Regions from separate parts of the Homo sapiens genome. Here region 2 is linked to region 1. The links come from fine-mapping of genetic effects on gene expression. A gene starts in region 1. The other region holds a variant in brackets. All regions are shown on one strand. Distances are between the middles of the regions. Region 1 holds the start of PLCG2 (phospholipase C gamma 2). Region 2 overlaps PLCG2 (phospholipase C gamma 2).

Region 1 (14,297 bases):
TCACCACCTTCCCAAGGGCAACCGTTCTGACTACTAGCAGCCTTGTTTTTGAAACAGTTTTAGTTTTCTATAACAACTAAGACATGCATAGTAAAGAATATTTAGAAAACAATGACAAGAGAAAAGTCAGAGACATGTGAACATATTGAACAGCCTTTAAAAAATATTAATTTTTTGGCCTGGTGTGGTAGCACATGCCTGTAATCCCAGCCCTTTGGGAGGCTTAGGTGGGAGAGTCGTTTGAGCTCAGGAGTTCAGGACCAGCCTGGGTAACACGATGAAACCTTGTCTCTATAAATAAATACAAACATCTAGCCAGGCTTGGTGATGTGTGCATGTAGTCCCAACTACTTGGGAGGCTGAGGTGGGAGGATTGTATGAGCCCGGCGGAGAGGGCAGAGGTTGCAGTGAGCTGAGATTGCGCCACTGCCCTCCTGCTTGGGCTACAGAGTGAGACCCTGTATCAAAATAATAATACTAACTTTCTGTTGAGGTATAACGTGCATAAAATGGCCCAGATCAGGCCGGGCGCGGTGGCTCACGCCTGTTATCCCAGCACTTTGCGGGGCCGAGGCGGGCGGATCGTGAGGTCAGGAGATCGAGACCATCCTGGCTAACACGGTGAAATCCCATCTCTACTAAAAAAACAAAAAATTAGCTGGGCGTGGTTGCAGGTGCCTGTGGTCCCAGCTACTCGGGAGGCTGAGGCAGGAGAATGGTGTGAACCCGGGAGGTGGAGCTTGCCGTGAGCCGAGATTATGCCCCTGCACTCCAGCCTTGGTGACAGAGCGAGACTCCATCTCAAAAAAAAAAAAAAATAAATAAATAAATAAAAGGCCCAGATCATAAGTACAGAGCTCAGTACATTTTCATAAAGTGACTAACCCATGTGACCACAAGATCAAAACCTAGAACATCGCAGCCCTCAAGGTCCTTCCTTCTGCTGCCTCCAAGGCAGTGAGATTCTCTATTCTGACTTCTTTTTGTGTGTGAGAAAAAGTCTCTTTCTGTTGCTCAGGCTGGAGTACACTGGTGTTGTCACAGCTCACTGCAGCCTTAAACGCCTGTGCTCAAGGGATCCTCCCATCTCAGCCTCCCAAGTAGCCAGGACTATTCTGACTTCTAAAAGCACTGATGAGTTTTGTGAAACACAGCCTTGTTTTAGACAAAGCTTCCCTCTCTCTGGTGCTGTTGGAGAACTCTTGCTCATCCCTCAGGACCCAGTTCTGAGGTTACCTCCTCTGAGAAGTCTTCGCAGCTCCATGAGGCAGAGGATTAGCCCTTGCCTGATTTGTCCCTCTAATTCAGCTCTTGCCATTCTGTGATAGTAAATGCCTCTTCCTGCTGTCTCCCCATTGAGAGGTAAATAGGTCTAATCTATTTGCCTAATATAGGGTACAGTGGGTTGAATTGTGACCCCCCCCAACCCCCCACCCAAAAAAAACAACAACAAAAAAACTAAGTCCTAAACCCTGCACCTGTGAATGTAACCTTACTTGGAAATAAGGTTTGTTTTTGTTTTTGTTTGCTTGTTTGTTTGTTTTTTTGAGTTGGAGTCTCTCTCTCTTGCCCAAGCTGGAGTGCCAGGGCAGGATCTCCGCTCACTGCAACCTCCACCTCCTGGGCTCAAATGATTCTCCTGCCTCAGCTTCCCAACTAGCTGGGACTACAGGCTGTGCCTCTACGCCTGGCTACTTTTTGTATTTTTAGTAGAGACGGGGTTTCACCATGTTGGCCAGGCTGGTCTTAAACTCCTGGCCTTAAGTGATCTGCCCACTTCGGCTTCCCAAAGTGCTGGGATTACAGGTGTGAGCCACTGGTGCAAGGCTGGAAATAGGGTCTTTATGGAGGTAATTAAGTTAAGGATCTCAAGATGAGAACATCCTGGATTCAGGGTGGACACTCAATCAGAGGACTGGTGTTCTTACCAGAGAAAGGAGAGGGGTATTTGAGACAGAGAGCAGAGGGCCATGAGAAGACAGAGGCAGAGTTAGAGTGATGCAGCTCCAAGCCAAGGAGCGCATGATCACCACCAACCACAGAACCCGGGAGAAAGGCGTGGGGCAGATTCTCACCTAGGGCCTAAGGAGGGAACCAGTGCTGCTGCTGGCACCTTGCATTCAGACTTCTGGCCTCCAGAACTGTGAGATGATATATCTCTATTTTTTTTTAAGTCACCAAGTTCATGGTAATTTGTTACGGCAGCCTTTGGAAGGTAAGACACGGGGCCTGGTATTAAATAAGGGCTCAGTGTTTGTCCAATGAATGAAAGGGGCCAGGCACGGTGGCTCACGCCTATAATCCCAGCACTTTGGGAGGCCGAGGTGGGTGGATCACCTGAGGTCAGGAGTTCAAGACCAGCCTGGCCAACATGGTGAAACCCTGTTTCTACTAAAAATACAAAAAAAAAAAAAAAAGCTGGGTGTGGTGGTGCATGCCTGTAATCCCAGCTACTCGGGAGGCTGAGGCAGGATAACCAGGGAGGTGGAGGTTGCAGTGAGCCAAGATCATGCCACTGTGCTCCAGCCTGGGCAATAGAGTGAGACTCCATCTCCAAAAAAAAGAATGACTGAAAAGGCTAAGAAAGGAAGCTTGGCTTGCTGGTCTGTGGTGGGAACAAAAGGGAGACCTTCGGATGCCTTCTTGCTCTGTGCCAGCTGCCTGGTGCAGCCTATGACCACTGCAGGACCCTGCAGACTGCCTGCCTGACACCATCTCCCCTTGCCCCTGCCGACAGCTGCCCTGTTTGGCCACATACTCTTGGGCATCCTCTCATGATGTGGGGGAAGCTGATCCATCCTAAATATACTGCCAAATGTGGAAAATCCCATTTTCTTGGAGAGTGACTGAGGCAGAGCAGGCTTTGTGACCCATTTCTGGCCAATGAGACAGAGGGAAAGCATGCTGGGTGTGGGGGGGCGTTGGGAAAAGGTGTACTCTTTTCAGTCTCTTCCCTTTCAGGTCTGGTTGCCAGGAGTGGCAGATGTGGAAATAATCGGTGTCCCTGTTGACACACTTGAACTTCTCAGTGTACCTTGTCTGCACCCCAACCACTCCTGGGCTTCCAGCAATGTGAGATCATTGATAGCCTTTTTGTGGAAGCTGAATACGTCCTAGTGGAGACTCCAGACATGAGAACGAGGGGCTTTTGTCTTCAGCAGTGCAGATTGGGAAACTGAGGCTCAGAGACTATTACATTGTTGGAGACACAGGGGGGTAAGAGGCAGAGCTGGGATTCACACTGAGGCCCACCTGTCTCTGTGTCCCATGTTTTCAGCTGCTCTTGTACACTATTGCTCTTGGCTTTCAACTGGCTGTCTTGATTTTACATGAGGTTTGGGGCCTGGCAAATGCCTGGTTGCAGTCTGGTTCTTAGCATAACAGGGTCCGCATGTTGAGAGTTCATTGCAATGTAGTGACTACTGAGTCAGCTCCAGGGGTCCCATCTAACCAGGATCCATGCCCAGGACTTGGATATGCGTTCGCAGACTCACTCCTCCACAGCAGCCCTATTTACCAAAGAAGAAAGTGAAGCTTACAGCGGCTGCAAATGCTGTGCAGAGCTACAGAGAGTGAGCGACTGGGACTGGAACCAGCTCTGTCTCACTCCAAAGCCCCCTTTTTGTGTTCCTCCAACTACACTCTGTGCCCATCATGCAGGACTTTGATGGTTGCTGCTATATCCCTGGAGCCTGGGAGTGCCTGGCCCCTTGCAGGCACTCCGCAAATGTTTGTTGAATGAATAAATGAGCTCCACCAGGACTCCAGGTTAGAGGTGCTCAAAGCAAAACCATGGGTCGGGCACAGTGACTTATGCCTGTAATCCTAGCACTTTGGGAAGCTGAGGTGGGTGGACTGCCAGAGCTCAGGAGTTTGAGATCAGCCTGGGTAACACGGTGAAATCCCGTCTCTACTAAAAATACAAAAAAAAAAAAAAAAAAAAAAAAAAGCCAGGCGTGGTGATGCACGCCTGTAGTCCCAACTACTCAGGAGGCTAAGGCACAAGAATCACTTGAGCCCAGGAGGCAGAGGTTGCAGTGAGCTGAGATCCAACCACTGCACTCCAGCCTGGGCAGTAAAAAAAACAAAACAAAACAAAACCCACAAAACCATTAAACCGGGGGCTCCACCAAGCTGGCCACAATTTAAATAGCAGAGGGGTCTGCCCTCCCCTACCTCCAGAAGCAGTGAGGCCTAACCCCATTGAAAGCCCATTCTGGGTGGTACTTCCTCTCACAGAGGCCTGCCAGCCAGCAGCTGGGACTCGGCTCGTCGCCACGGATGTGTGCTTCTCTGAACAATGTTGGGAAAGGAAACTAGACTCAAGGGCTCCAGGGGGTTTTCTGGTCATTTTGGCTGTGGGGGTAGAGGGGTAGGGTTGGCGAGGTTCCCTGGGGCAGGGCGGTGGACCTCAGCCTGGTCACTGCCTTTGGAGGTGGTGGTGGAGGAGGGGAAAGGAGGTCTGGGTTTGAAATAACCCTCTAAGGGTGTTTTTTTTTTTTTGGTCAGGGTCTTACTCTGTTGCCCAGGCTGGAATGCAGTGGCACATGATCTCGGCTCACTGCCTGCAACCTCTGCCTCCTGGGCTTAAGTGATCCTCTTGCCTCAGCTTCCCGAGTAGCTGTGACTCAGGCTCACTCCACCAGGCCTGGCTAATTTTTAAAGTTTTTTGTAGAGATGGAGGTCTCATCATGTTGTCCAGGCTAGTCTTGAACTCCTGGGCTCAAGTGGTCCACCCTCCTTAGCCTCCCAAATAGCTGAGATTACAGGTATGAGCCAATGTGCCCAGTCCACAGATATTTTTCAAAACAGCTTTCTTGAGATATAATTCACATCCCATGCAACTCATGCATGTAAAGTGTACAGTACAGAGGCTTCAGCACATTCACAGAGCTGAGCAGCCATCGTCACAATCCATTTTAGAACATTCTTATCATCCCAAAGAGCAGCCCTGTACCCCTTATCTTTTACCTTCCGATAGGCCCGCTCTCTGCTTTCCTGGTCCTTGGCAACCACTGATCTACGTTCTGTCTCTGTAGATTTGCTAATTCTGCATATGCTATAGGTGGGTCTTATGATGGGGAAATTAAGTCCAAAGAGGGTGGCTGAGCAGCCCACAGCCATAAAACTAAGGAAGGGGCAGACTTGGAACTGGAGCCCAGATTCCTTGTTTCCAAGTTCATGCTTTCACAGGAGGTCTTCTTCTTCCCAGTAACAATTCCTAAAATAGTCAGCCTTGGTTTTGCCCCATGGGGATGAGGGCTTTACCTCCCTCATCTCACAGTCCCCCTCAGATGTAGGTACATTTCTGATACCCATAGGTATAATAATGAGGAAACTGATACCCAGAGAGGCTAATGGTCCAATGCACCATGGCTGCCAGCAAAGAGAAGAGGGTAATAGGGAAAAGCATTTGTATGCCCAAGGACTGGTGAGCAACACAGAATACAAAGAGTCAAGATGATTCAGCTTAAAATGTAATTTTCTTTCAGGTTATTCTTTCTTACCTATCCACTTCCCTTTTTCTTTCTTTTGTAGGAAAAGGAAAAGAAAGATCCCTCTACCCTTTGAGGTCACTTCCTGACCCATTTGTGCATCTATGTAGAGTGGTTACAAACTCACATCTCCCTGCCTGAATGCCTCTTATTAATCTGGGGATGGGTGGCAGGTCAGCATGCCCATGGGCTCTGACACCAGACAGGCTGAGGTTCAAATCCAGCCCCCACCACCCACTGACTTAACCCACTCTAGCCCTCTGACAGCTAACCTGTGACAGGGCCTTTCTACCTCATATGTCTGAACCCACAGAGTGGTTTCTTTCTCTCTCTCTCTCTCTTTCTTTCTTTTTTTCCTTCTTTCTTTTTTGTTTTTTTTGACGGAGTCTCACTCTGTTGCCCAGGCTAGAGTGCAGTGGTACAATCTCGGCTCACTGCAAGCTCCACCTCCTGGGTTCAGGCCATTCTCCTGCCTCAGCCTCCTGAGTAGGTGGGATTATAGGCACCCACCACCAGGCCAGGCTAATGTTTTTGTATTTTCAGTAGAGACGGGTTTTCACCATGTTAAGCAGGATGGTCTTGATCTTCCAACCTCGTGATCCGCCCGCCTCAGCCTCCCAGGGTGCTGGGATTACAGGCGTGAGCCACCGCGCCCGGCTCAGAGTGGTTTCTTTCCCTACCTATTTTATTCCATGGAAAAGAAAGAATACACAGAATGGTTCCTTCCCCACCTATTATCCTTGGGAAAAGAAGTGTCATTTTACATTAGAGTCCTCCCAGAACAGCGCCTGCCGCCTTGATGATGACGACGATTGTTAATTCTGAGATGGAGTCTTGATCTATCACCTATGCTGGAGTGCAGTGGCACCATCTTGGCTCACTGCAACCTCTGCCTTCTGGGTTCAAACGATTCTGCTACCTCAGACTCGTGAGTAGCTGACACTACAGGTGTGTGCCACCATGCCTGGGTAATTTTTGTATTTTTAGTAGAGAGGGTGTTTTACCATGTTGGCCAGGATAGTCGTGAACTCCTGATCTCAGGTAAGCCGCCTGCCTTGGCCTCCCAAAGTGCTGGGATTACAGGTATGAGCCACTGCACCTGGCAGATTATTTTTATTTTGAACAACCAAGTTAGAGTTTGAGAAAGAGATGAAGGGCCTCCAGTACTCTCTTTCAATCCACTGATTCCTTCAGTCGTTCACCTGGGGGGTGGGGTTGGGCTAGGGGTTGGTTAGCAAAAAATGAGCCAAAGAAGAAAATGAATTAAAAACATGAAAGAAAAAAAAGCAAACTGCCATTTACGATGACCATTATCTCACACACAGTGGACATTTTAACTCAAAAATACTATAGGCTCACAGGCATAGATTAAACAGAGAAACCTGTTCTTCATGTTCTTATTTTTTTGCTTGCTTCCCACAGATGAGAGAAAAATCCAGCCAGAATTGGCATCTGTCAAGATAGGCTTTTAGGAGCCACGGCTCCCTAGAGTGGTCTCCACACATTCTGATTATATGCAATCTCATTTTGCCATCAAGAGACTTAACCCACTCCCCTATCCATGTAGACTTTGTAATAATAAATTATACATATATATGACTGAACTAATATATTATGTACTTTATATAACACATACTAAAACAAAAGTGTGAAAAAGATTGGTTGAAATAAATACAAGCTGAAGTTCTAAAAAAAAAAAAAAAAAAAAAGTGAGGCAAAGGAATTGCCCCTAGATGTAGTCATTTTTCCTGGGGAATTGGCCCAATGACTTCAAGTGGTTGATGTCATAATGAGTCCTTCCAAGATCTCTTTAAAAAATTGATGTGTTAAGTGATCTGTGGTGATGAGCACAGCTATACACGCCAGTTGGGAGTGCTGAAAGAAATGAATCCACAGATCTTGTGAAGTCACAAACGAGTCCTATGGCTTGGGATACAACATTGACAGTGAGAGTGATATTCCTCAATTAAAAAACGCTATAACAGGCCGGGTGCAGTGGCTCATGCCTGTAATCCCAGCACTTTGGGAGGCCAAGGTGGGTGGATCACTTGAGGTCAGGAGTTTGAGACCAATCTGGCCAACATAGTGAAACCGCGTCTCTAGTAAAAATACAAAAAATTAGCCAAGCATGATGGCATACACCTATAATCCCAGCTACTCAGGAGGCTGAGGCAGGAGAATCGCTTAAACCTGGGAGGTGGAGGTTGCAGTGAGCCGAGATCGTGCCACTGCACTCCAGCCTGGGCAAGAGAGCAAGACTTTGTCTCAAAAAAAAAAAAAAACAAAAAAAAAACAAAAAAAAAAACAAAAAAAACCAAAAACACACACACACAAAAAAAACGCTATAACAGACCAGTGGCACATGCCTGTGATCCCAGTGCTTTGGGAGGTAGAGGCAGGAGGATTGCTTGAGGTCAGGAGTTCAAGAACAGCCTGGGACACATAGTGAGACCTCATGTCGAAAAAAGAGAAAATTAGCCAAGTGTGGTGTGCCTCTATAGTCCCAGCTCTTCAGGAGGCAGAAGCAGGAGGATCGCTTGAGTCCCGGAGTTCGAGGATGTGGTGAGCTATGATGGCACCACTGCACTCCAGCCTGGGTGACAGAGTGAGACCCTGCCTCTTAGAAAACAGAAGCTATAACTCAAGCAACTTGGAAGTGAAATTCAAGTGCCTGACAGCTGTCTAGGTGCCCCTGAAACTGCCTCTAGTCACAACAAAGATACCTCCATCAAAGAGCATAGGAAGGGTTTGAATCAGATAGCTTCATGCAACACACGAACGGAAAAATAAATTTCTTAAAGAACATATTAGCTTCTTCCCATGAGATCAGGAAAACGGGACATCAATTGTCTGGGGTTCTTTGCTCCTGACTCCCTTTGGGGCTGGCACTATGTTGATCACGTTTTACAGATGGGGAAACTGAGGCTGTCGGTTTTTAAGTGGTCTGCCTAAGGTAGCAGTAAGGGTTGGTCTGACTCCAGCGCAGCCTCAACGAGGGCTTCAAATTAGGGCCATGAATTGGCAATTCCTGGCGGGTAATTGTGAAGAGTATATTTATTTTTAATTTTTATTTATTTATTTTTGAGACGGAGTGTCTCTCGGCCACACCCATCCTAGCTCATTGCTGTCTCGAACTCTCGAGCTCAGACGATCCTCCCGTCTAGGCTTCCCAAAGAGCTGGGATGACAGGCGTGAGCCCGGGCGCCCGGCCGGGAGTGTGTTAAGTATACGGCAAACACCTGGACTGCGGCCGGCTCTCCAGGAATGCCATGATATTGGGGAATTCCCTTTGCACCTGGCCAAGTGGCCTCGGGCAGGTAGCCTCCCCTCGGGTTGCCTCAGTTTCTTCTTTGGCACGCAGAGGCGGGGCTCCAGGCCTGGGCCGCTCCATGGCGGGGAGGGCGCGGGGACGCTGCACTCGGGGTGCGCTCCGAGAGGCGGACCCGGCTGGGCGCGCCTGGGGCGGGGCGAGGCGGGGCGAGGCTGGGCGGTGCGGGGGGCGGCCCCCGAGGATCACGTGGCGCGGCGCCGCGGCCGAAGCAGAAGTAGCGAGCGCCGGCGGCGGAGGGCGTGAGCGGCGCTGAGTGACCCGAGTCGGGACGCGGGCTGCGCGCGCGGGACCCCGGAGCCCAAACCCGGGGCAGGCGGGCAGCTGTGCCCGGGCGGCACGGCCAGGTGAGCTGCCCGGCCGGGAGCGAGGCAGGCAGGGCGCCCAGGGACCTGCGCCCCGCGGGGACCGGCTCCCAGGGCGCTGCGTCCGAGGGGGTCTGCGTCCTGGCTCAGCCGGAGCGGGCAGGGACGGGGCGCACCCTCGGGGACCCCGGCCCGCCGTGCCCGGGGTCCGTTTGGTGACGGCAGGGATCCTGGCCCAGCCGCTGGCCACTTCCTCACCCCGGGCCGGCGCCACCTCTCCGGTCCGTGCGGTGGGGCGGCCCCAGCTTTGAATGGGGACCGGGAGGAAGGTCAGGGGTCGTGTGGGGGCTGGCGTTCAAAACTCCTCTTTTCGAGCGGCTCTGCGTGGGGTGGCGCCGTCTCTCTTGACGGCCCTTGTGCCCAGAGCTCGCGGACGCTCGGAGCCACACTTCCCTGTCTCACTTCGGTGGTTGCGGGTGGCGGGTGGGAGCGATACCGCGGGAGGCGCAGTCCTTCCCGGAGACTTTTGGAGAGCTTGCAGGACACTCGCGATGCCCGCTCCGCAGCTGTCTGCGTAATTATGCGTGTGTCTGTGCGTGTTGTGTTTTGTTGTGTTTTGGAATCCCAAAGAGGGCATTACCCGCACAGCGCAAGAGTTCAGGTTAAAGACGTGCCCCGTTTGGACGGGGAGCTCCTGGATTCCAGCAGGACGGTGGGGCGGGGCTCTCTTGGTACCCTAATCTTGAACTAGGGTGAGAAACTATGGGGGGCGGGGTGGTAAAGGGGTGACATGGCGCGAGGGAAACAGGTGGCCTTGCCCGTCGGAACTTAATTTGAATTTCAGTTCCATCAGTGGGACCCTGGGCAAGTTGAAGAACCTTTTTGAGTCTGTTTCCCCCTCTGGATACTGGAGCCACCCAATTTTCCAGGGCTGTGTCGAGAATTGGGGCTTATTGCTGTTCCACGAGGTTCGCTGAGAATCGGGGCGCATCCATGGAGAGTCCTTGGGCAGTTCCTGACTCTCTGGTTCAAGGGCATTCTCTGGGGCATGGGCCCTCGTCCTTGACTACAGTTCTGCGGGGAAGTTTTACAGAATTTTGAAGTCTATGCCAGCCTCAAGCAGTTTCTCTTGCAAAGGTGTGTGTGCAGTCACGTGTATACCAGCTCAGGGACAATCGTCATTGTGAGCCTCACTGATGTTTAAGTCACCTAATGATGCAGCTGCCTTCCCCCACCAGCGACTGGAGTATGGGCAGTTCCTCTGGAAGTGGAAAAGCACAGACCCCATGAATAGCCCTTTTGCACTCATTGGGTAGAGTCAATGAAAAGCTGCTGGTGAGAAAACTTTTGAAAACATTTCTTGGTCAGGCACGGTGGCTCACACCTGTAATCCCAGCACTTTGGGAGGCCGAGCTGGGCTGATCACTTGAGGTCAAGCGTTCCAGACCAGCCTCACCAACATGGTGAAACCCCATCTCTACTAAAACTACAAAAATTACCTGGGCGTGGTGGTGGCCGCCTGTAATCCCAGCTACCCAGGAGGCTGAGGCAGGAGAATCACTTGAACCCAGGAGGTGGAGGTTGCAGTGAACCCAGATCATGCCACTGCACTCCAGCCTGGGTGACAAGAGAGACTCCATCTCAAGACAAACAAACAAACAAACAAACACACACAAACACTTCTTAATTTAGAAAACAGCAAGAACACAAAGAGAAAAATTTGCCCGTTACATCATCAGTTAATATAAATAAAGTCAAGTTGTATCCTCTACCCTCTCCCAGCCTCCGATAAATAGTAACCACTCTCCTGGATTTACCAGAAGATCACCTTTATAAAAAGGGAATTGTATTATACTCATACAGTTGCAACTATTGTCTGAAGCTATTTTTTTATTGACCTCACAAATCTTTCCAGATCAAATTGCTTATCTATCATCCTCATTCTTTCTGATGGCTACTGAGCGTTCTTCAGTGCATGTGCACCATTATTTATCCAGGAGGCCCCCCACATTGATGAGCAGTTGTTTTCTGTTTTTTTTTCTTTTTTTGTATTTCTATTGCAACTATTGCTTCCGTGATTTTCTGTCGTACATATTGCATCTTTGTGCATGTCTTTCTTTACATGTACAATTGCAGGATCGAAGCATATGCGTGTTTTGCTTTTTAGTAGCTGCTCACAGGTTGCCCTAAAGGAGCAGGGGTGGAATTTACACTCTCACTTGCAGTGGCTGACACCATTCCTTTGAAAATAGTGTATTCCCTCTAATGCTGCAGGGTGGGTGTAAGGTGCAGCAGTAATGTCCCTTGAACTGTTGGAGGGGCCCTTACCACTCAAGTATTTGCCTGTGCTCCATTTTAACACAATTGTCTTGTGGGATTTTTGGATGAAATCCTGTACTGGCTTACCATGCACAGAGCACTGAAGAGACAAAAACTTCCTTGATTTCTGGTTTTGGGTCCTCGCATCTCATTTCATGTCCTTTCCCCCCCCCCCCCCGCCCGCCCCCGAGACGGAGTCTTGCTCTGTCGCCCAGGCTGGAGTGCAGTGGCGCGATCTCGGCTCACTGCAAGCTCCGCCTCCCGGGTTCACGCCTTTCTCCTGCCTCAGCCTCACGAGTAGCTGGGATTACAGGCATGTGCCACCACACCCGGCTAATTGTTTTGTATTTTTTTTTAGTAGAGACGGGGTTTCATCGTGTTAGCCAGGATGGTCTTGATCTCCTGACCTCATGATCCGCCCACCTCGGCCTCCCAAAGTGCTGGAATTACAGTCATAAGCCACCGTGCCTGGCCCATTTTATGCCTTTCTAAATAAGCTTATGAGATACAAGAACATGAATGAGCTTATGAGATACAAGAAAAACCTTTAGAAGGACATGAAATGTAAAAATGGCAAAAATCAGTTATTCAAACTCAGCCATATTTGTATTTACAAAATAAGTCATTTTATAGAATTACCCATTAAGAATGGGAAACAGGAACAAAAAAGGGATTTCAAGGCTTTTTTTTTTCTTTTTTTGAAAAAACCAAAAAAAGCAGAAGCAAAATGGAAGTTGCTGTGGTGGCTGGTGCTCTCTCCTGGGCTCAAGGTCTTGGAGACCTCCCTGCCATAGTTGATAAAGCGTGGAACGCTGGAGACCTGAGCTGGGTGCTGGCAGGATTTGAATGGTGGACTCCAGGGATCTTTTGGCCGTGAAGATCTGTTTCCAATTGCATCTCATAAGCTCATTCATGTTCTTGTATCTCACAAGCTTATTTAGAAGGGCATTTCGTGAGATACAAGAACCCCAAACCAGAAATCAAGGAAGTTTTTCTCTTCAGTGCTCTGTGCATGTTAAGCCAGTACAGGATTTCATCCAAAATCCCACAAAACGATTCTGTTAAAATGGGGCACAGGCAAATACTTGAGTGGTAAGGGCCCCTCCAACAGTTGAATGGACATTACTGCTGCACCTTACACCCACCCTGCAGCATCAGAGGGGATACAGTGTTTTCAAAGGAACGGTGTCAGCCACTGCAGGTGAGAGTGTAAATTCCACCCCTGCTCCTTTAGGGCAACCTGTGAGCAGCTATTACAAAGCAATTGGTGAGACGCAGCATGGAAGTCTGGTGTTTATGGCTGAGTTGATCCACTGGGCTTCGAAGCTGGAAGTAACTGGGACCCTGGGGAAGGTTAAGTCCAAGGCCCTCCCAGAGTGAGGGCTGGAAAGAACTGAGGAGCCTGGTCCCTTGTCCTGGTTTCTGTCTAATTGAAGGTGTTATAATGGGGCTTGTGTTTCCTACTTATGTTCCAGTGGACTATGGCCTAGAGACCTGGGAGTGGGGAACTCCAGGATGCATGGCTGGGAACAGTCAACATAGTGAAGAGCTCTGTGGTTGGCAGCTGGGTCAAATCCAGTTTCAGCTACTTTTTTAAAATTTTATTATTATATTATTATTATGCTTTAAGTTTTAGGGTACATGTGCACAACGTGCAGGTTTGTTACATATATATACACGTGCCATGTTGGTGTGCTGCACCCATTAACTCGTTTTGCTACTTTCTATCTGTGTGACCTCGGATAAGTCCCTTAACCTCTTTTGAGAGTGGCAAGTACTGGCAAATCAGTTAATATCTGGCCAGATGCTGCCACAGGATTCTGGACTAGGGGCTTGGGACTCAGGTGAGGGTTTTGATCTTTGTGCTGCTGCTGGTCTACATGACTTTGATCAAGTAATGTGACCTCTTGGGATTTCAGTTTTCCGCTGCCGTATTTCCCATTGAGATAAATGAGACGAACCAGACACAACAGGTGCTTGGCACCTGGGGAAGGGCCCAATAAATGGCTGCTTAACAAGGATGAAATGGACCATGGGGGCACCTTGTTCATCCCTTTGTCCTGGCTAATGATCAGGAGGTCATTTTGGGTTTCTCCTGATAAGGTAAGATGCACATTAACTCTCAGCAGGGTTTTTTTTTAGCATACTCTGTTCTGCCTCCTAGCCTTTGCTTAAACTTAAAGCCAGTTCCTCCTGCTTCATCTTTTTTGAAAGATTGAGTTCAGATGCCTGCTTTTTTCCCCTGAAAGCTTTTTCTGAGCCCTTTAAGTGCCTAGCCACACTCCAGATTAAATTTAGGATTCCTTCTTGCTGCTCTCTGCCCGCCGTGCCCCCAGTGCATGCTTCTGCTGCTGCACTTGTAACTACATTAGAATTCTCAGTTGATTAGTCTGTTTCCCCATGGGCAGAGAGCAGGTGTAATTATCTCCTGCTGCTGGCATGGCTGACCGAGGAGGTCCCTTTGGTATGGGTGTGCAGTAGAGGGAGGTGGGGGCAAAGGGCAAATCCTGGGCCCCTCCCCATTCCCCTCATTTGCATCCTAGTCCCCACCTCAGTGCCTGGCATAGAGTTGACATTTGATTAATGCCTTCCCCAATGGCTGATTAATGCTAACTGAGACCCTGGTAAATGCTGCAGGCTGTGCATACATTGTAGCTTTTTGTCTTCCCAGCTGCCCCTTGTGGGCATTTAACCTCCATTTTACAGATGAGGGAACCGAGCCACAGATTTAGAGCAGCTTGGCAGAAGGCTGAGCCCGGCTGGAAGCACAGACAGCCCTGGCTGAACACCAGCCTCTCACTCCTCCTTCTTTGGATCCTGGGAGGGTCTCTCTAGTGCTACTCTGTAACC
Region 2 (16,160 bases), 150 kb after region 1:
TTTCAAAAATTTATAATCCATGGCCAATGCAGATCTGTTTCAGAAAGAAATGAAATCTTGAAAAGTTGTGGGCAAATTGAGCTGTGTGTGAAATGCATTAAGAGACCTTAGTAGCAAAAACTTTTGTTAGTAGTGAAGGATGTTTTGGCGATGAGAACAGTCACCTCTCTAACTGATGACTTTTCCTTCCTGTGGCCTTGGAGACTGGCTGGTCCTTATATCCACCCTTGAAGCAGGATACGCAAGTAGAGGCTGCTCTGTTTGCAGGTGGGGGAGAGAAAGGCAAGGGTACTGCTTAGCCTCTGGCCTCCAGCTGCAGATCCCTGTGGCAGAGCTCCTAGAACCCACATTGCTTCTTATGAAACATCATGCACTATGGCACTAACTCACATTGATGGATCCAGTTCTGGGCTGAGCCACTTAAAACAGCTGGTCGATGTGGGGCAAATTACTTTCTCTCTCTGCATCTCAGTTTTCTCATCTGCAAAATGGGCATACTCATATAACTACTTACCTGTTATGGTTGCTTAAGGATTAAAGGAGATACCTTAAGGCTTGGAATAATGCTTTAGCGATACTATAGTTAGCACTTAAGAAGTGCAAGCTGTTGTCAGTTTTATCATTATACACATGATCTCATTTAGTAGTCTTAACAACCCTGTGAAATATATAAAAATTTAATTCCCATTTCACAGACGGGGGAACTGAGGATCAGAGAGACTCAAACTTATATCATTATTCAAGGGCAGAGCAATGATTTGAACCTACATATCTGACTCTGTAGCCTGTGTTCTGAGGAAAAATTTTACTAGGTTCCCTGTGAAATTCCTGTTCCCATTTCCTTTGGGTGGGAGGAGAAGGAAGCTGCTCATTTAAACAGGTTTGACAACGTCAGAGCTTTTCCCACTAACATTTGCTTGCCGTGTGGGTGTTCATTTATGCCCGCCAGGCAGAAAGCATGAAAGCAAATTCATTGAAGAAAATTTCTAACCAAGGAAGTTCTATCTTATTTAGTTCTGTGAACAGAGACCACCTTTTGATGAATTTCATGGAGGAGAAGCTCAGTTACTCTTGCAAAATGTCAGGGTCCTGCAGGAGTGTAGATAGGGGACTGCTGACCTACAAAAACAGAGCAATGAGGCCCTCAGGACAGGCAGGAAGAATGGGGTTGCCCTTGAGCTTCTGGGAGGCTTGCTGAGCACCGGCACTGTGATGACAGTCTTGGCTTAATCTAAAAGGCATGTCCTTTCTTTGTTGAGGAAATTGAGCAATATTGTGTCACTACAATATAGGGTCACTCCCACCCTAACCCTAAGCCTAACCCTAACCCCAGCGCTAAACCCTAGCCCCAAACCCTAACTCCTAACCCCTAACCCTTAACCCCAACCCAGGTACCCTTGGCTCTGACTAGGCCAGTTCTCCTTCACTCCCTGGTGGCTTTTTGGGGCCTTCGATCCTTTGCAATGCCAGTCCCTCTCCAGCAGATGACTTTGTAACCTTGGCCTGAAGCCTCCTGCTCCCCAATGAGAAGAACCAAATGGTACCTGGGAACGCAGCCGCCTCCCTCCCCTCCTGTCCCTGGCCTGACCTTTTCCTTCTTGTTTTCCCTGAAAGCCTCAGAGAACCGTGAAAGCTCTGTATGACTACAAAGCCAAGCGAAGCGATGAGCTGAGCTTCTGCCGTGGTGCCCTCATCCACAATGTCTCCAAGGAGCCCGGGGGCTGGTAAGGCTGAGTGGAGGCTGGGCTGCTCGGCAGGTGGGCTTGACTTGTCCCTTCTTGGTGATAAGACTCAGGTGCTGGCCAAGTCTGACCCCCTTTGTCATCCTGGGCTGGCTTTGACCTCTTGTGTTAAGTCCCTTCTTAGGAAGGTGGCTTGGTGCATGCTCTATTTGAGAAAATGGATAAACAACAATATTAACAGGTATCGACATATCATATCATATATTGTATATTATTATAATTACAACAGCAGCTACCATTTATTGAAGTCTTTCTAAGTGGCAAGCAGTCTGCTAATTGCTTTCCATGCATTGTCTAACCAAATCTTCAACCAAATCTTCATTACTCCCTGTGACAAAAGATGCGGCAAATGAGACTTTCCAAGTCACACAAATAAATACTAAATACTAAATAGTGCAGGCGCTTTCCAATACACAAGACTGTGTGTTATTTCCAATTCAAATTCGTATGCTGTTCCATAGTCCCGTGCTGTGTGCAATGGCCACATCCTGAATTGAAGACAATACGTTTTTCGTGCAAAGGTACCTGGGTATGCTAGGGTTTAGTTACCACTTCGCTTTTTAACCTTAGAAGAAAAATTCACTGCCCACTGATAGGTTTCTGGGGAAGTGGTTTTGTGGGGTGACTTCTGTCTGAGAGCAATAAGAACTTGCTCATAATAGTGAGCACTGGTTTAAGCACCTCATAGACTGGCATTTCTGCCTCCCACAAGATAACTGGACCTGGCTTAGGAATCTGAATAGCAGCATGCATGGAGTGCTTCTATGTGTCAAGCACTGTTTTAAGCACGTTTGAAATAACTCACTTCATTTGAAATAACTGAGTCTACATGATGACTGTAAAAGGTTGGTTCTGTTGTTACCTGCATTTTACCGATGAGGAAACTGAAGCCTTCAGAAGTGCAGTCACTTGTCCAGGGCCACATAGCAGGCTGAGATTTGAACCGCCAGGCCTTTTGACTCCAGAGCTTACACTCTTAACTCCATTCATCTGCTAAGTCCTTCCCTGTCCTCTTGCAAGATGCCTTAATCCAGGGATTATCAAACTTTTTCTTAAAATCAGGAGAACCTCATTGCAAACCAATTCATACCTAGATTCCACAGAATCAAAGATGCAGCCGAGTTACCCATTGAGCTGGAGTGGGGGCGTAGAATTGCCCTGTTTGGCCTCCTTGCTGACATTGCTGTTCCTACTGCAGCCTCTGATGCTTCCCCTTGGAGGCTCCCAGACCCAGTTGGGCAACCACAGTGTTGTCCGTCTGCTTCTCCCAGTTCAGAGGCTCGGCTTTGCCGAAGTCCCTCCACTCGAAGTGGCACAGAGTTGAGGTCTCTTCCAGGCACACTGGCGTTCCCTCACTGGGCTCCTGTCCCTGCCTTGGTCAACATCCTGGTGCGCACTGGGTGGGTGACTAACAACATTTTTGGAGTTGTGGCTGGAGCCCAGGTGACTACTCCAAATCACGGTTTTCCATTCTGTGTGAGATGGCCTCATGCCTTTCTATGCCTCTGACAGGCAGTTCTCTGAATTTCGAAGGCTCTTGTCTTAAGAGACTGTCAGAAGTCCCTTTGGCAAGGGACTGTGGGCAAACCGCCCAGCGGCTGTGGTCAATTCCTCTCTCTGATGGCAGTAGTGCTACCTAGGGGGCCGCCTGGGTGAAACCGGCTTTTTTGCATACTTCCAAACTGGTTCCCTGTAGCTAGGGGACCAAACAATTATTGTCTGAACCAAGATGCTCCTGAGAGTGAAGAGAATGTAAAGTGCTCAGTCCTGGACAGATGGTATATATGATCGCCGTAAATACAGCCAGCCCTTGCCAGAAGTGGGTCTGGAGAAATGGTGCGGGGGGGCGTGAAAAGGGCTTACAACCCGCAGTCCTGTGTCTCTGCTAGGTGAATTGGTAGCATCAGTCCTCACTCTGCTTATTCAGACCAAAAAATTGTTAAGTTCTTCCCACCACCACGGAGCACAGACTTGATTAAGATCCAGAAAGGTCAGCCGGGTGCAGTGACTTGCGCCTGTAATCCCAGCACTTTGGGAGGCCGAGGCGGGTGGCTCACTTGAGGTCAGGAGTTTGAGACCAGCCTGGCCAACCTGGTAAAACCCTGTCTCTACTAAAAATACAAAAATTAGCCAGGCATGGTGGCCCATGCCATAATCCCAGCTACTGGCGGGGCTGAGGCAGGAGAATTGCTTGAACCTGGGAGGCGAAGGTTGCAGTGAGCTGAGATCGTGCCATGCACTCCAGCCTGGGGGACAGAGTGAGACTCTGTCTCAAAAAAAAAAAAAAAAAAATCCAGAAGGATATCATATAGAGGGGAAGACAGATGTATAATTATACGTTAAGTATAAGATGTGGCTGCTTGGATGACTGTGGGGACAGGATGCCAGGGGACCACAGAGGAAGAGTGCTCAGCCTAGGGGGCAGTCAGGGAAGACTCCGTGGGAGAGGAAATGCCCAAGCTGAGTCTTAAATTAGTGGGGGGAAGTTGGGTACCAAGGGCATGGGCCAAGGCATGGAAGCTAGGCAGCATGGCAGGGGCATGATAGGGACGACGGGCCAGCTGGAGTCAACATCATGGAGAGTTAGGAGGTGATGTCTGGGAGTCCTGGGGTCAGACTGTGCTGGGCCGTGGCTGCCATGTTGAAGAGTCTGGGCTGGATTCTGGAGGCCCTGGGGAGCCATCATGTGGTGTGGTCAGAGGTGCATTTTGGAGAGTCCCTGGCTGCGGAAAATAGCTCAAGAGATGGGCAGGTTGAAGGAGGGCGTTTGCATGTCTGGGCACGGCCTTGCCGGGAGGAATCTTAGAGGTGCTCACCGTCTGGTGGGGTCCAGGAACATTCATAGATGGATTATGTCCCGTGTTGTTAGTGTTGTTATAAAGATAGGGAACAATGTTTTAGCTGAATAATAATAAGAGCTAACACTATTGAGTATTTACTGTGTACTAGGTAGGCGCTGTCCCAAGCACTCAGCTTATGTTAATTTAGAGTCCTAATAAAACCCTCTGAGGGAAGCACTCACGTTTATGCATTTTTCAGATGGAGAGTTGGAGGCACAGAAAGCCTCCACCGTCAGTGGTAGAGCTGGAGTTTAATTCCAGCCTGTCTGCCTCCAGAACCACCTTCTCTCTAAATTCACAACCTCCCCGAAATAGGGGTGAACTTTTGTCTTGTATGGTCTCTGACTTCCACGTAAAGCATGGAAACTTTTGACTTGTGATCTTTGATTAAACATTAAGATCATGTGATGGGGGTAAAATCAGCCCCCAGTAACTCATTAGTAATTAAAAAATAAAAAGACAGCAGTTGCCTTTGAGATGCTCCATTGTCACAGATAGTGACACTGGTCACTTGGCCACTTGCTGTCTGTCCCCATCAGAATTGAGCCAGCAGCCGGGTGCAGATGAGCAGTAGTGGGTAATTCATGCCACCTGGTGACAGCGCCCCCATGTCCTCTCTTCTTATCCAGGTGGAAAGGAGACTATGGAACCAGGATCCAGCAGTACTTCCCATCCAACTACGTCGAGGACATCTCAACTGCAGACTTCGAGGAGCTAGAAAAGCAGGTGAGTCCCCCTCTTCGATCCTCTTACAGGAAGAAGGGATCTGCAGGTCCAGTTTTTCAGGGAGCTGTGCCATCTCAGTGGGTGAATTTTTCCATGTGCTGCTTGTGGTCTCTGTGGAGCTCTGGATCAGGGAAGACACAGTGATGATAGGGAAATTGAGATTGAGTTGTTGTGGGTGAGTTGCTGTGACAAGCCGGCCGTGTTTTAATCAGGTTGTGTTGGGCTTGGAAGGATTTCATTATGCAGGAGAATTCCCGCTGGAGTGAAAGTGACCAAATGGGGAATTTGTCCTTTGCTTAAGCAACTTGCAGATGAAACACATTTATATTGGACAGCCAGACATTGAGAACGTGCTTGGGGCGAGTAAGCAAGTGGGCCTAACCAGAGGTGAGATGAGGCCTTCCTGGTGACTTTGCAAACCTGGTGGTTGTTCCCTCGCCGCCTCTTGTTTAGAGAGCAGCCACTTTCAGCGTGCTAGCACTCCACCAAGGATGATATCTTTGTAATGAGGATTTTAAGATCCCGTTAGACCCCCAGGTGTTTATTTTCTAAGGGATGTAGGGCAATCTGGGAAGGCTTCCTGGAGGAAGGAGTATTTGACCCTTAAAAGTCAAGTTAGAGTTCAACAGCAAGAGACTGGCAGAAGAGAGGTGCAAGTGGGAGGTACAGTCTAAGCAAAGGTGTGGCAGTGGGAATGTGGTTGTGTTCCGTGTGCTTGGGCTGAGGCAGAGACTGGAAGCCCTTGCTTCCTCTGTACTGAGTTGCCCTTACCTGTACATCAGCATTTACCTGGTGCAGGGGGTGGGGTTTGGGGTGGTGCAGGCAAGGAGTGGATGCCTGGTTCTGCCACCTCTCCTAAGCCCAGGATATTCTTCATCTCAGCCAGACCCTGGGATGGTTCAAGGGTGCAATGGGAGGCAGAGCTGGAAAGGGTGATGGGGGCTCTGAAAGTCTTAAAAGCCAGGTCATAGAGCATGGGTGTTGCTTCCACAGGACATGGGGAGCCACAGAAGGTTCTTGAGCCGGGCTTTAGTAGGCAAAATAGTCTCATTTTCTAATAAGGTCAGATAAATAGTCTAGGATGTGTTTGGAAACCAGATCTGAGGAAGCATTATGAAACCTGTTCTAGAATTCACAAGGCACGTTTTTACGGATTGGAAAATGAAACTCCGAACCTCCTGGCACCCTCTCCCCGCCAGGTCCCTATCAGCTCCATGCTTCATTATTTAGCTCTCTCCCCATGGACGTATCTGGTAATGAAAATGCATTTTAAACAGTTCCACAGGCAGTATCTCTGCTAAACGGTGTGCTTTGGAAACGGGTTTTCTTTTTATTATTCCCGTTACAACTAACGTGAGTTATGTCTTGTTTCTTCACAGATTATTGAAGACAATCCCTTAGGGTCTCTTTGCAGAGGAATATTGGACCTCAATACCTATAACGTCGGTACGTGCACACATCATCTTAGCCTGGATTTCCACCCCTATCCCCCATGGGCTGACCTCAGCCCCGCCCTACACAGGGAGGTGGCTGACACAGGGTCCTGTCTTGAATGCCAGCTCCTTCCCTGGCTGAAGCTGAGTATTTAGGTCAGGCTGGTCAGTGAGTATGATGCTATGTCTGCTATTAATCTCTACTAAAACTGTAAGTGCTAAAACAAGGTCTCGTACATAAGTGCTAGATGGTGGTTAGCGGATATTATTACCAGCGTCACTCTTATTATTTCAGGATCCATCTGTGTTTCCCATGCGTTGCGAAGGAAAGCTGAGCTGTCAGCCTGGCTGAAATGCAGCGTGGAGTTGGGAGTCTTGGGTTCTAAACCCAGCTCTGCCTCTCT[G/C]TCGCTGTGAGACTACAGGCCTGTCACTTCTCCTCTTTGAACCTCTGCTTCCTGGTTGCTCGGCTGGGGCCCAGGAAACCCAGCCCGCCCACGTTGACCATGCTGCAACGGGATGTGAAGGCGTGGCCCCAAGGCTAGGCTTGTCCAGTGGTGGCCAGGGTCTGATGTGTGCTGGGTTTCCTGGGTCTTGAGCCTGCCTGCTTTGAAGTGGGTGTGGTGCAGCTCCCATGTGAAGGGACTCTGTAGCGGGCCTCCTTGTTCTGGGCAGCCCATGACCCTCCCTGGGCAGGCACGGGCATGCTCCCCTAGGACTCAGGTGACAGCAGCCCCAGGAACTTCCTGCTTCTATTGCCAATGCTCTGCTTTACACATTCATTCATTTATTATTATTTCTTTTCGCGATAGAGTCTCGCTGTGTCACCCAGGCTGGAGTGCAGTGGCGTGATCTTGGCTCACTGCAACCTCTGCCTCCTGGATTCAAGTGATTCTCCTGCCTCAGCCTCCTGAGTAGCCGGGACTACAGGCATGGGCCACCGTGCCTGGCTAATTTTTGTATTTTTAGTAGAGCTAGGGTTTCGCCATGTGGGCCAGGCTGGTCTCAAACTGCTGACCTCAAGTGATCTGCCTGCCTTAGCCTCCCAAAGTGCTGGGATTACAGGCATGTGCCACCATGCCCAGCCTGCTTTCCACATTTATAACCTGCTTCTTTACCTTTACAATGATCCAGCAGGATAGGTAGGAGAGGGATTCTTTGCTCCGATTACCAGATGGGAAAATCAAGGTCCTAAGTGACCGACCACCACATGTGCTGAGGTCCTTTGGGCAGGGGGGTGCAGGATCCCTGCATCCACTTCTGGTGCTCTTTGTATCATCTTCCCCCATCCCTGTATCTGCAGAGCAGAGGCACATGGCTCATTGGTTCTGAGTAGAAATCTTGGAGTCAGGTTTGAACTGAGCCTCAGTTTTACTACTACTAGCTGTATGACTTTCCACATGTGACTTTCTCTTAATGAGCCTCAGTTTTGCCTCCTGCAAAATGGGCCTAGCAAAAGCAGGGTGCCTTTAGTCTCAGCTACTCAGGAGGCTGAGGTGGGTGGATCCCTTGAGCCCCAAGAGTTTGAGACCAGCCTGGATAATGTAGCAAGAGCTCAAAATTAAAAAAATAAAATAAAATAAAGATGCAATACATGTAATCTGCTTAGAATATTGCCTGGTATATAAGAGCTCAGAAATCTTAGCTACTAATATTATTTGGCAGATAAGTTTCCCTGTCATAATCTTTTCTTCTCTGTAAGATCCTTTCTCTGTGTCTGGAGAACCCACGCCACATTTCTCTCCTAGTTTCTGGTGACTCTTTGGTGTTTTTGGCTCATGGCTGCATTCTTCAGTCTCCACATTTGCCTGCACATGGCTTTCTCCCTTGTGTCTGCATCTGTTTTTAAAGCCATTTAGCTGGGTGTGGTGGCTCATTCCTGTAATCCCAGCACTTTGGGAGGCCAAGGTGAGTGGATCGCTTGAGCTCAGGAGTTCGAGACCAGCCCTGGGCAACATGGCGAAACCCCTCTCTACAAAAAATACAAAAATTAGCCAGGCTTTGTGGTGTGCACCTGTGGTCTCAGCTACTAGGGAGGCTGAGGTGGGAGGATCGCATGAACTTGGAAGGTGGAGGCTGCAGGGAGCCAAGATCGCACCACTGCACTTCAGCCTGGGTGACAGAGTGCCACCCTGTCTCAAAAAAAAAAAAAAAAGCCATTTAAATTATTTATTCTTTATATGTAAAAGATTATATGTAACAACATAGAAAATTATGCACAATATGCTAAGTGAAACAGTTCACAAAATTTTATGTATTGTATGTAAACATTTTGTAAAAATGCCAAGTTGCTTAGCTATATTTTAAATATTTTTAAAATGAACATGTATTGTTTTAGTAATTTGTAAAAAATATTTATGATGAGTGTAAAAAGCATTTTCTAATTGGTCAACCAAAAAGATATTCAGTGTTTCTTTTGATCAAGACGAACACATGTCTATAACTAAAGTGGACAAGAGGGTATTTTTTTCAGGTTCTCTCATGCATTTTAATGTTTGTTTTTTTTTCCTGCATCTTAAGTGTCCCTCTCCTTTCTCTTATAAGGATACTCATACTTGTTGGATGTTGGAATTGCCCTAAATCCAGGATAATCTCATATTGAGATCCTTAACCTAAGTACATCTGCAACGACCCTATAAGGTCCCATTCACAGGTACTGGTGACCTGACACATCTTTTCGGAGGACCCTACTGAATCTACTGCATCCCTTGAGTAGTCATCTGTGATGTGTACTTACCCCGATGGAAAGTAGACGTCCCCATCAGTGCTAACCGTGGTCATAGCAGTGGTGGTTGGTCCATGAGAGAAACAGCTCAGGCAGGGTGCAGTCTGGTCTTTGTGGCCCTCTAATAGGCTGATTGGGACATTTCTTATTCTCTTACCCCAAGTGAAAGCCCCTCAGGGAAAAAACCAGAAGTCCTTTGTCTTCATCCTGGAGCCCAAGCAGCAGGGCGATCCTCCGGTGGAGTTTGCCACAGACAGGGTGGAGGAGCTCTTTGAGTGGTTTCAGAGCATCCGAGAGATCACCTGGAAGATTGACACCAAGGTAGGCACCTGCTCACCCGGGTGCAGGTGGGCCTGGCATTCTGAGGGCTTTGGTGCTCAGTTGGGACTGTGGGTGGGTCCAGGCAGCAGGATGAGCAGGCCCAGGTCCTACTCAGAATTCAGGAAGGAGACCAGGTGGATTCAGACAATTGGAGCACCTCTTGTTAGAGAGAGGCAGGGATAGTGGAGGTGCCCTGGGAAGGTGGGTCTGGTTGTCTGGTTCGAACCTTCAGAAGGCTGAGTGCCTGCAGCAATGCTCATTGATGATGTCTTTGCGGCCCTACATATCTTACCAAGGAAGTTACTGCCTTCCTCATTTTGAATATTTTCTTTCTAAGTATCATATAAAGCAGTCTGGATCCTCCTGACAGAAAACGTTCACTGAGCTCACCTGCCTGGAGCTGGAATGGGCTCTGGGAACATAGCAAATCAGCGAGACCCGGTTCTTTCCGGTGGAGGAACTTCCCCTCTAGATGGGAGTGACCTTTTCAGGGCTGTCCTACCTGAAGTACTAGTCTCTGGCTGGAAGTGTTTTGGGAAGGTGTGAGCTTCTGGATAAGAATAGGAGGTCTGGAATTGGGCAGACTGGAGTTTGCATCCTGGCAGGGCTGGACCCTGGGCAAGTAACCACACTTCTCTGGGCCTCAGTTTCCTTGTCTGCAAAATGAGGAGCCAAATTCCTAACTCACAAGTACTTAATCACTGCCTTATCATTATATCAGAGCGACATGGGAAAGTGCCACCCTGTCTTCGATGATGGAGTAAGGGCTGTCTGTTCTTGTGGCTGCCGAACTGGAAAGAAATTGTAGGGTTTCCCATGCACCCATTTGTTTCTAAGGTAGAACTTGACCCAAAGGGCTGATTAAAGCCTTCCTGGGGCCTCTTGTGCCCTCTGACTTCTGGCTAGAGTCAGTGAGTCTCTCCTCCAAGATAGTCACCCACCAGTGGCCAGGTCATTTTTTTCCCCTTGGGAGGGCCTCACATCTTGGCCAGTCCCTGGTCACGAGAGGATCCTTGACTCACTCAACTCTTCTGCAGGGAAGTGTCCTCTTTAGGAGACTTTGCAGAGGGGACTGGTCCATGGGTGCCCTCGCTGGTGGGGCATCGTCTTTCTCTGACCCAGGAACTCCTGGGGGCCTTCCCTAGGGCTCCTAATTCTTCCCATGGCTTTTCACACCACCAGCCATGGGGGAGGAACCATGAGCTTGTAGCCAGCTGCGCTGTCCTTCTGGCTTTCCCAGTGAAACCATCTCTTCTGCCCTCCAGTGTCTCTGATGCCACAGTACAGCTCTGAGGCACAGGGAGGTGCCACGACCCTGAGGTTTATTTAAAAAATCTCCAAATAGTGCACTCCAGCTCTCTCTACTTTGCTTAATGTGGAAAAGTGTTATTTCCCTAGAAGGCTCTGTCTCTCCCCTGCCTCACACCTCCTCTCCTGCCGCGTGAAGGTTCCTGAAATGAAGCTGAGCTGTTCAAGGTTGCTGTTGGCGGCCTTTGGTCTGCATTCCTCTCTAACTGGTTTTTATATTTACTGAGATTTCATGAGAATGATTTTTAAAGTCCTGTTATTACATCTGAGGGGTAAAAAAACTGGGACAGTAGAGTTGACGGAGTTCCCACACTGGGCACAGCTACCCCTTTTGCGGAGCTGGTGTTGGGGAGCAAAGGAAGAAGGCCCCATCCCACTCTTGGGAAACCAGCGGCGGATAAACTCTTTGTCACTGCCAGGACCTCTGCCTGTCCCTAAGTGCCCGCATTGTTACACGGTCTGTAGCCACCTCATTGATGGCAGAGGGCAGTCACAAAATCCTTCTAGTTAGTGGGTTTCCAGAGCCTCACCAACTGTATTGTGACTTCCCATTCTGAGATGGCTTGAGGGGTGACAGCTGCAGGCCTGGAGAGTAATTGTCATGCTGTTTTTTGTTTTTTTTTTTTGAGACAGAGTCTCACTCTGTTGCCCAGGCTACTCAACTTCTTTGTTAAATGGAGATAATTCTCCCTGTCAGGGTGTGGATTGACTTAGGTAATATCCCTCAAGTGCTTAGCCTGTGACGGCTAGAGCTAAGCACCCCCCAAACAGTCACCATTATTATCTAAATATTCTCTCAAGGTCCCCCCTTGGCCAATAAAAGTCTGATAGAATTTGGGGAGGCCCAACAGGGTTGCCTGCTTTGGGGTGAAGTGAGAAGCTCATCCTTACATGCAAGGAGTTAGATTTGATGGTGGGTCTTCTGAAGGGAGGTACCTCCTGAGTCCATGGCACATGGCCTGGGCACTGGGTAGTGGTCCCCTTGGACAGAGCCCTGATGGGCAGTCAGAGCTGGGGAGCAGGTGTGCAGGTTTTGAGGGTGCAGGGGATAGAGAGTTATGACGAGGATGCTGGGGTCCACAGAGCCCCCGAGGATTTGAAGAACTAGAATTTGAGACACTCTAACAGTGTGGCTTTAGGGGAGGGGACAGGAGGCAGAGTTAAAGACAGAGGGGTGGTGACAGAGAAGAGCCCCCTTCCATCCTGACCTCACCTATATTTGAGGGCTGTGGCCAGGACTGAGCTGCACACCAAAACCTCGTGGAAACAGCTTTGTCGAGAATTTTCACAGTGAGAGGAAGAAACGAGAGGGGCAGGGTTGTCTTCAGGAAAGGAAAACATTCAACCATATTAAAGATCCGAGTGTGCAAGAAAGCAAAGTGGGGATGGAGGAGGAAAAATGCAGGGCGAGCTGGGAAGATGGGATTTCTCGGGGGCGGGCACTAAAGACAGTGAACTCCAAACAGGAGAACAACATGAAGTACTGGGAGAAGAACCAGTCCATCGCCATCGAGCTCTCTGACCTGGTTGTCTACTGCAAACCAACCAGCAAAACCAAGGACAACTTAGGTAACATCTTTCCCAAGAACATGCCCTATAACTCCAATGAAAACTTAACTTCCTTTAGAGTCTGATATTTTCAGAGGGGGCAGAGAGTGCATTCTCTCATTCTTAACTACTCCCAGTAGATGGCCCCACCTTGGGTTTGTCCTCCGAGTGAGGGAGCTGGTGGCAGAAGCTTTTTTGGTGTATTAGTCCATTTTCATGCTGCTGATAAAGACATACCCAAGACTGAGTAATTTATAAGGAAAAAGAGGTTTAATGGACTCACAGTTCCACGTGGAGGAGGCCTCACAATTATGGCAGCAGAGGAGAGAGAATGAGAAGCAAGTGAAAGGGGAAACCCTTATAAAACCATCAGATCTCGCGAGACTTATTCAGTACCACAACAACGGTACAGGGGAAACCACCCCCATGATTCAATTATCTCCTATCGGGTCCCTCCCATAACACGTGGGAATTATGGGAGCTACAATTCAAGGTGAGATTTGGGTGGGGACACAGCCAAACCATATCACCCACTTAGTGGGTGGATTTAGTTCTTACTGCCATTACCACAAACTTGGTGGCTGAAAACAACATTTATTCTTGCACAGTCCTGGAGGCCAGAGTCTGAAATCAGTATCATGAGGTCAACATCAGGGTGCCAGCAGGGCTGTGCTCCCTCCGGAGGGGAAAGCCATTCCCTTCTTCCAGTTTCTGGGGGCTGCTGGCATTCCTTGGCCTTCTCCTCTTCTGCTTCCCTATTATAAGGACCCTTGTGATGCATTAGGTCCACCTGGATATTCCAGAATAAGCCTCCCATTTCAAGCTCCTTAATCACACCTGCAAAGTCTGTTCTGCCATATAAAGTGACATGCACAGGCTCCAGATATTAGGGCCTGGACATCTTTGGGGGCCATTTAAAAAAAAAAAGACCTTCTACCACATTCTCCAGGTAGCAAGCTTTTTGATGATGCTGTACGTATTTTTTTCTTTGGGTGTTTTGAGCTGCTTCCATATCTTTCATCTTAGAACAGAAGACCAGCCAGACAATACTAGACCCCTCAGTTAACTTACCGGGAGGCCAGTCCCTAGGAACTTCTACCTTCAGGGACTCAGCAGGCTCAGCATGTTGACTGCCGGGCTATCCCACCACAGCTGGATGGGAGAGAAGATGAGGCCTGTCCCCTTCCCTCTCCTCCTGTTCTCCCTTCCCTGCACAGGCACCCACATTGCAACCCTACCTGTGGGCTTTGGCAGGTGATTCTCAGTTTGTTCATCTTGTGTCTGTGGTCTCTCTGGATCTTCCCCTCCCAAGATCTTCTCCTACCCAAAACCATTCCCATTCTCCCTCTTCTATAACTGTACCACTTTTGTGTTTTCTTGTTCAAGGATGGTGATAGTTTAAAAAAAAAAGTAAATTACAGTAATTCTAGCCTAAAAGGTGGTGGGAAAACTAGGCCCCTTTTTAATACTTGGAACCCCCAGAGGGCAAGAGTCCACAGTGATACCAATTGGGACAATATCATCAGAACCCCTTGAATGTCAAAGAGGGAGATTCCTGGTTTCCTTTTATAATCTGAGCATCCAGCCATTGCAGCAAACATTAAGAAAATGCACAGATGAGACACAGAAGTACTGATGACCTTTTTCTCTGTGTGCAGAAAATCCTGACTTCCGAGAAATCCGCTCCTTTGTGGAGACGAAGGCTGACAGCATCATCAGACAGAAGCCCGTCGACCTCCTGAAGTACAATCAAAAGGGCCTGACCCGCGTCTACCCAAAGGGACAAAGAGTTGACTCTTCAAACTACGACCCCTTCCGCCTCTGGCTGTGCGGTTCTCAGATGGTGGCACTCAATTTCCAGACGGCAGGTAAAGGCCGACTGAAGGTAGTCCCGTCCCTGCAAGGTGGCGGTTGCAGTCACTCCAGGCCGAGTCACCTTGGGTCAGCGATACCATGTGGTGTCCAAGAATGAGTGATTTGTCCGAGGGACTGCACGGTTCAGCAGAGTAATGGTTAGTATGAGGTCCAGCAGCTGAATGGAGGGATGAGAGGACCGAAGGCTGCTTGGCTTACGCAGGCTTCGTGATTGTAAGTAAGTGACAGAGGCTGAGTTAGTCTGGCTTAGAAAAAGAAAATGCATTAGTTCATGTAATTAAAGCATCTTTGGAGTTCTCTTCTCCAGGCCTGTTGCTGTGTGAGGGCTTTCTGCTCAGACTTTCTTCCAGAGACATTTACATGCTGGCATAACTAACATACACAAACTTCTGGACACAAAGTGATCGCATAAATCACGGGGCTTTGTGCTTTTGTTGTTGTTATTTAAGACCTCTTTCGAGGGATCTATTCATCAGTAGCCTCCTTTACATTCTTTTTATAGCCACATCGGATTCCACAGAATGGAACAATCATTTATTTAATAAGTCCCCGTGGAGGCACATGTAGGTATTCCCCATTATTTGCTGTCATAGACAGCACTGCCTTCTGTACCCTGACGTGAGCGCCATTCCACAGATGTAGGAATATGTCTATGGGACAGAATTCTCAGAAAGGCAGGGTGGGTCAAACAGCGCTTGCATTTTGATCAACTTTGCCCTGAGGAAAACCACTGAAGACGTGCCTGAGCTAAGCCACACTGCCAAACTGCCCTCCATAGAGATCGTGGGCGGGGATGCAAATAGGTGGAGGTTGGAGTACGCTCTTTTGGTATGACTTCGCTGAGTTTTGTTGAACTTTTTGCCGTTTGCACAACTGAGAGGTGAAAACTGATACATCGTCGTCCATTAGAGCTTCTTCTTGTAAGGGACATTAACCAGTTTTTCCCTCATTTAGGGAGCAGTGGCATTTTCTTTTCTGGGAACTATTTGTGCTTCTTACCTGATGTATCTACTGCAGTAGGTATTTATAGCATAGATGTATCAGAACTAAGAGGTTAAAAATTTATATTCACATATTTGTCATTTGAATTAAAATTGCCTATGCAATTTATTGCTACATAGACACTTTTAGCAAGTTTGAATCTTTTCTTTTATGATTCGGGATTTGGTGACATACTTGGAAAGGTGTTCCCCAGTCTGGGAGTTTGCTGTCTAGAAACCCTATATTTTCTTTGAGTGAGATACCTATTTGAACAGCTGCCTCACATTAATTTGGGGAAAAGGTGAAATTCATTCCCCACCTAGAAACTCCTGGCCTAGGGGGCCAGCGTGCTCATGCCTGACTTACAGCAGGCGTTCACTTTCCTTCCCAGATAAGTACATGCAGATGAATCACGCATTGTTTTCTCTCAATGGGCGCACGGGCTACGTTCTGCAGCCTGAGAGCATGAGGACAGAGAAATATGACCCGATGCCACCCGAGTCCCAGAGGAAGATCCTGATGACGCTGACAGTCAAGGTAAAGCCAGCCCTCCCTTCCTGCCAGGGGAGCCAGCCGCCCTCCCTGGGGGCTGGGCCGATGCTGTCTTGAGAGCAGGGAACCCATGTCTAGGGAGGCTGGTTGTCTTGTTTAAACGATCCCCATT

Evidence for each region.
Region 2: its variant is fine-mapped to the expression of PLCG2 in whole blood (INTERVAL, PIP above 0.99). The same link has a PIP of 0.9 or more in unexposed skin.

What each region holds. Positions count from the first base shown.
Region 1 is chr16:81,770,255-81,784,551 of GRCh38, forward strand. It overlaps PLCG2 (phospholipase C gamma 2), which reads left to right and starts at 9,037. Exons shown (of 33, transcript NM_002661.5): 1 at 9,037-9,170. LOC105369213 (a long non-coding RNA gene) reads left to right here. Exons shown (of 4, transcript NR_189584.1): 4 at 6,918-7,099. RefSeq lists silencers at 8,530-8,824, 8,853-9,122, 9,153-9,252, 9,263-9,342.
Region 2 is chr16:81,921,871-81,938,030 of GRCh38, forward strand. PLCG2 (phospholipase C gamma 2) reads left to right here. Exons shown (of 33, transcript NM_002661.5): 22 at 1,615-1,724; 23 at 5,212-5,308; 24 at 6,688-6,754; 25 at 9,627-9,784; 26 at 12,559-12,661; 27 at 14,299-14,508; 28 at 15,888-16,033. Among named protein-coding and RNA genes, the nearest start is that of SDR42E1, 82 kb to the right of the region's middle. The variant G/C (reference allele first, on the strand shown) is at 7,146.